Linked DNA regions of Homo sapiens: region 2 is linked to region 1. The links come from fine-mapping of genetic effects on gene expression. A gene starts in region 1. The other region holds a variant in brackets. All regions are shown on one strand. Distances are between the middles of the regions. Region 1 holds the start of FGFBP3 (fibroblast growth factor binding protein 3). Region 2 holds the start of HECTD2-AS1 (HECTD2 antisense RNA 1).

What was found. PIP is the estimated chance that this variant, and not a neighbour inherited with it, causes the effect.
Region 2: its variant is fine-mapped to the expression of FGFBP3 in tibial artery (GTEx, PIP 0.98).

Annotation. Positions count from the first base shown.
Region 1 is chr10:91,908,302-91,911,117 of GRCh38, reverse strand. It overlaps FGFBP3 (fibroblast growth factor binding protein 3), which reads left to right and starts at 1,632. Exons shown (of 2, transcript NM_152429.5): 1 at 1,632-1,720; 2 at 2,071-2,816. The coding sequence starts at 2,149. FGFBP3-AS1 (FGFBP3 antisense RNA 1) reads right to left here. Exons shown (of 2, transcript NR_199602.1): 2 at 1,770-2,221. RefSeq lists an enhancer at 1,992-2,286 and a silencer at 2,190-2,759.
Region 2 is chr10:91,611,272-91,614,087 of GRCh38, reverse strand. HECTD2-AS1 (HECTD2 antisense RNA 1) reads left to right here and starts at 2,628. Exons shown (of 5, transcript NR_024467.1): 1 at 2,628-2,737. The variant GTCAGGAGA/A (reference allele first, on the strand shown) is at 1,395.

The sequences.
Region 1 (2,816 bases):
TTCGTTTAAAGAAAAAAATGCCATGAAACATTTGAACTGATGAGCCACAGAACTTCAGTTGAAATTTTTTTCACTTTTTAGCATGCTAAATATACATCTCAGTTTAAATATTCTGTTTAATGGCCATTTATAAATTCAAGCACTACCACTGGTCAGTTTTGTGTGATAGAATAAAAATATGTTACCTGCAGTGTAAGTATAGCACACTGTCAAATTCTTTTCCTTAAGGTGCACAGTAAATGTACAGATAGTTATAGGCCACTGTTTTTGCAATGTAGTACATTTCTAATCTATTATTCCTAACCTATTATAACTGTTTGCAGAGAGAAAATAATTGAATTTTTCTAATAATCTGTAAAATTATGCTAACTTCTACAAGTAGGCTTCTAAATAAAAATTTTAAAAAGAGCAAAAAAAAAAAAAAAGAAAGAAAAAACAGCTTTGCTTGGTCAGCACTTTGAGAGGCTGAGGCAGGTGGCTCATCTCAGGTCAGGAGTTCGATACCAGACTGGGCAACATGGTGAAACCCCTTCTCCACTAAAAATTAGCTGGGTGTTGTGGCAGGCACCTGTAATTCCAGCTACTGGGGAGGCTGAGGCAGGTGAATCGCTTGAACCGGGAAGGCAGAGGTTGCAGTGAGCCGAGATAGCACCACTGCGCTCCAGCCTGGGTGACAGAGTGAGCTCCCGTCTCAAAACAAACAAACAAACAAACAAACAAACAAACCCCCGCACACACACACAATCCCCCCCTCCAGAAAAAGCAGCTTTGCTTAAATGTAACATTTTCAAGATTCAAGAACACATTCATTCTCTCTCTCTTTTTTTTTTTTTTTGAGAGGCAGTCTCGCCCTGTCCCGGGTTCAAGTGATTCTCCTGCCTCAGCCTCCTGAGTAGCTGGGATTACAGGCATCTGCCACCACGCCTGGCTAATTTTTGTATTTTTAGTAGAGACGGGATTTCACCAGGCCAGGCTGGTCTCACATTCTTAACTATTATACCATTTCAATTGGTAATCTTACCGTTCAACTACTATAATACAAATAATTTTTTTAAACTTCTAATTTTTGGAGGACCCTTATAACTGATTTCTAATACCTAAAAATAATAAAAAGCCCAAATGTCCACTCCTGGGTGAACTGCTGGGCACTATTGTATGTTAATAAACTAGGATATTATATTTTTATTAGTAGTAACAATTATTAAGATTGAGAGTCTTAAGAAAGGCTATTGGAAATAATAGGTAAAAATGTAGAACTCAGAATATGAGAAATAGAATGTAAATGATATAATTGTGTAAAAAATGCCTAGTTTAGAATACTGAAGTTTGTTTTGTTTCATTTTATTTAACTTTTAAAACTTAGATCTTTTGTTTAATTTTTATTTTTTGGATGGTTAAGTACATGAAAGAAGAAAAACTTGGTTAATTTTGCCTGATTATTTTAAACATTGGAAGCAAAATACAAGATTTGTATTTCATACTACAGGACCGCTTCCATCATCCATCTGGAGAGACAGAGAGAGAGAGGGAGAGAGAGAGAGAAGCGCGGCGGTGATAAGTCTCCCAGTGTGAGAGAAATCGGGGAGGGGCGAAGAAGGGTAGGCCTCTTCTGTTCCATTGATACCACGTTCATTCACAGGGAGCCGGCTAAAACAGACTACTCCCCCGTGCAGTCGTTCCCTCTACCCTAATAAGGCTTTGGCGCCTCTCCCAGAACTCGGTAAGTTCAAAGTGTAGTAAAGTGCATGTTTCCAAGGAATCATCTGAAATGATTTTGTAGATAGTTTATTGCAGGTTGGAGAAGGGAGAAAATGAAGGAAGGGGTAGAGGGGGCAATTATCACGCATCGTTTTGCTATCGTATTTGCAAGGGGAAGAAAATCTCAATGCATACATGGTTCGAAAGTGATTATTTAGACAGTAAGCAGTTTCCCCAGGAAAGCTCCTCAGAGGGTCTCCTCGCAGGCTGCAGATTCTAGAAAGTCTGCGGAAGAGTAGTTCGCAGGTGCATGTGTCTGGGCGAAGCGCTGCGTGTGGCTCAGTTGGTGGCAGTCTCTGCCTCTGTCCGCAGGTCCTGGGGAATGCTCTTTGCCTGGTCCAGCCCCGACAAACGTGGTCTGAGAACAGCGGAGCGCGGAAACCGCGGAGCATGACTCCTCCGAAGCTGCGAGCGTCGCTGTCGCCGTCGCTGCTGCTGCTGCTGAGTGGTTGCCTCCTCGCGGCTGCTCGGAGGGAGAAAGGGGCGGCTAGCAACGTGGCGGAGCCGGTCCCCGGGCCCACTGGCGGCTCCTCGGGTCGCTTCCTCAGCCCCGAGCAGCACGCGTGCAGCTGGCAGCTCCTGCTGCCCGCCCCGGAGGCCGCAGCGGGCAGCGAGCTGGCGCTGCGCTGCCAGAGCCCGGACGGGGCGCGCCACCAGTGCGCCTACCGCGGGCATCCGGAGCGCTGCGCAGCCTACGCCGCTCGCCGCGCGCACTTCTGGAAGCAGGTGCTGGGAGGGCTGCGCAAGAAGCGGAGGCCCTGTCACGACCCCGCGCCGCTCCAGGCCCGCTTGTGCGCGGGCAAGAAGGGCCACGGCGCCGAGCTGCGGCTAGTGCCCCGCGCGTCCCCGCCCGCACGCCCCACCGTCGCGGGATTCGCGGGGGAGTCCAAGCCCCGGGCCCGGAACCGGGGGCGGACCCGGGAGCGTGCGTCCGGCCCAGCCGCTGGGACCCCGCCTCCCCAAAGCGCACCGCCCAAAGAAAACCCCTCAGAGAGGAAGACCAACGAGGGCAAGAGGAAGGCGGCCTTGGTCCCCAACGAGGAGCGACCCATGGGGAC
Region 2 (2,816 bases), 300 kb after region 1:
GTCTTGGGAACAGTGTCAACAATTCCATTATATCACCATCTAGGTTTAGTGTGCTTGAAAACAATGATCAGGCCACACCTATGCCAAAAACTTCCTATCACAGCAACAAAAGATATCGATGCTCCATATCACAAAAGGATACAGTCATAACGATGGGCAGTGGGTGCTTCCGGCTATTTGTCAGTACAGCTTCTCACAGCCCCTCTGTCTCACTCATGCTCTGTCAATGGATTAATAGCTCAGGACAACTGTGTGTCCCATGAGTCAGAGGGGCTGGTGAGTCACATGCTTATGCCAATTCCTCCGGCAGATACTTTATCCCAGCCATTTATAATGCTGACCATTTATAATGCTGACCAGACTCAAAGTAACTAAAACCAGCTGTAACCAGAGACATGCACAGACTCAAGTGTCCAGTTATGTACTCTGTTGGATGATATGACCTTCAAAATTAATCTTTGGGTAAGCCCAGTCTATAAACTGCTTGTTCATATGTCTACTCTGGATTTATGATATACTCTCTTCCTTGTGGTAGCTGACACTCTCTGGCTCTGACTGTTTAGATCATGTGAAATCTGACTTACCATCTAGCCAGGATCTTGAGCTCATTGCTACCAAAGTCCTGACTAACAACTTTAAAAAAATGGAAAGAAACCCCCAAAGGAACTGCCTTGGTGGCAAATAACTGCACAGTTAGAGCTGCTGTGATGGAGACAGAGGTATCTGGAGGACTTTGGCTCCTGGGTGTTATGACAATCTTTGGTCCAGAGGGAATAATATCTTATAACCCTGTATTTATACATGGTATTAAAATGTCAAAGGCGAATTTTCTAGGTCTATTCTGTAATCTGATTCCAGGGCAATATGATCCCTTTGCTCTTCAGCTGACTTCTGTCTTATCATCTATGTCAAAGCTTAAGTGTCACCTTCTCAGAGTGGTCTTCTCTGACTACCCCATCTAAAATAGGTATTCCCAGCCATTCTCCCTCATTCATTATTATTTTTTAAGATTTTATTTATGAATTTAATGTAAATGCCATGAAATATATGCAAAATTCATGAAAGTTATGAACAAAACATTAACACTACTCAAGTTTTATGTGGTTTAATTTCACCAATATCCCCTGGGTTCCATGGGAGGGATTTCAGCATAACATAATTATTTTCAGTTCAACGCAAAAAAAAAAAAAAAGATTGACTGAGCTTCTACTACGTGGTAGGCACTGAATCTACAGAAGTAAGATATATTCCTGCCCTCTCTTTTCTCAAACTACACATAATATGGCCCTTGTTAGCCTTTCTAATATGGATTGAAAATCTATGTGTAGGCCGGGCACGGTGGCTCACGCCTGTAATCCCAGCACTTTGGGAGGCCGAGGCAGGGGGATCACGAG[GTCAGGAGA/A]TTGAGACCATCCTGGCTAACACGGTGAAACCCCGTCTCTACTAAAAAAAATACAAAAAAAATTAGCCGGGCGCTGTGGCAGGCGCCTGTAGTCGCAGCTACTCAGGAGGCTGAGGCAGGAGAATGGCGTGAACACGGGAAGCGGAGCTTGCAGTGAGCCGAGATCGCGCCACTGCATTCCAGCCTGGGCGACAGAGCGAGACTCCAACTCAAAAAAAAAAAAAAAAAAAAGAAAGAAAGAAAATCTATGTGTAAGTGTAATTCTGTGTTTTTTTTTTTTTTTTTTTTTTTGGCAGAGTCTTGCTCTGTTGCCCAGGCTGGAGTACAGTAGCATGATCACAGCTCACTGCAGCCTCAACCTCTTGGGCTCAAGTGATCCTCCTACCTCAGCTTCCCAGGTAGTTGGAACTATAGGCATGTGCCACCATATTTGGCTAATTTTTAATTTTTTGTAGAGATGGGGTCTCACTACCTCATTCATTATTTCATCAAGTGTTGTTGGGTGCCTGTGAGGTGCCTGGATCCCTCAGGGAACTTACGTTTACTGAGCATTTATTAATGTGACAGGCGCTATGTTAAGAGTTTTGTTTACATTTTCTCATTTCGTCCTATGAGGTATGTACTGTTATCATCACCATTTTACAAATAAGGAAGCTGAGGCACAGAGAGGCGAAGTAACCTGCCCAAGATCACACAGTTAATAAGGGGCAGAGCTGGGATTTGAGATCCAGAAGTGTGATCCTGAGCATGGGCATTTCCTCTCATAGCACCCTGTTCTTTTCCTTTCTCACACATCTCACAATTAGAATTCTATGTAATAGGGTGTGAGTGAGATTTTGTTCTGTTGTCTTGGAATGGCTGCCATTGCCCAAAGGTGACCCAGAAAGTGCTAAGCACTCTGGTTTTCTAAAGAGAGCTCTTAACCAGCCTTCAGCAATGCAGTGGCAGAACTGGCCTTAATACCACCAACCCTGCCCCTGTCCTGGGTCTGTAAGGAGAAGTCTGGGCTGGAATAAGGGGCTCAGAGTTTTCAGCCTGGAGGAGGTACAGAGTTCCTTGTGAGCATATTCCCAGGAGCAGGACCAGGAACAGGGGTTTTCCCTCCTCCAAGCCAAAGGAGAGTTGGGGGTGCTAAGGGGATCACTAATGTCATGTTTACTGGCTAGACATCTGCCTGGGCAGCAGTCCTGCTGTCAGCCCTGTCCCAGGAGAAGAGAAACATTGGAGAGAGAAGGCAGGGCTGAAATACGGTGTGGCCATGGCACAGGCTCCTTCCCACAGCTTGGCTCAGCAGGATGGTTAGATTTCCCACGCGTCAAAAGAATGCTGAGGAAGGTACTGGGCCTGGGCTGACTTGCTGTGCCCCCCTCTGCCCCCCGAAGATAGCCACCCTCTGGATGAGGGTCTCCAAGCA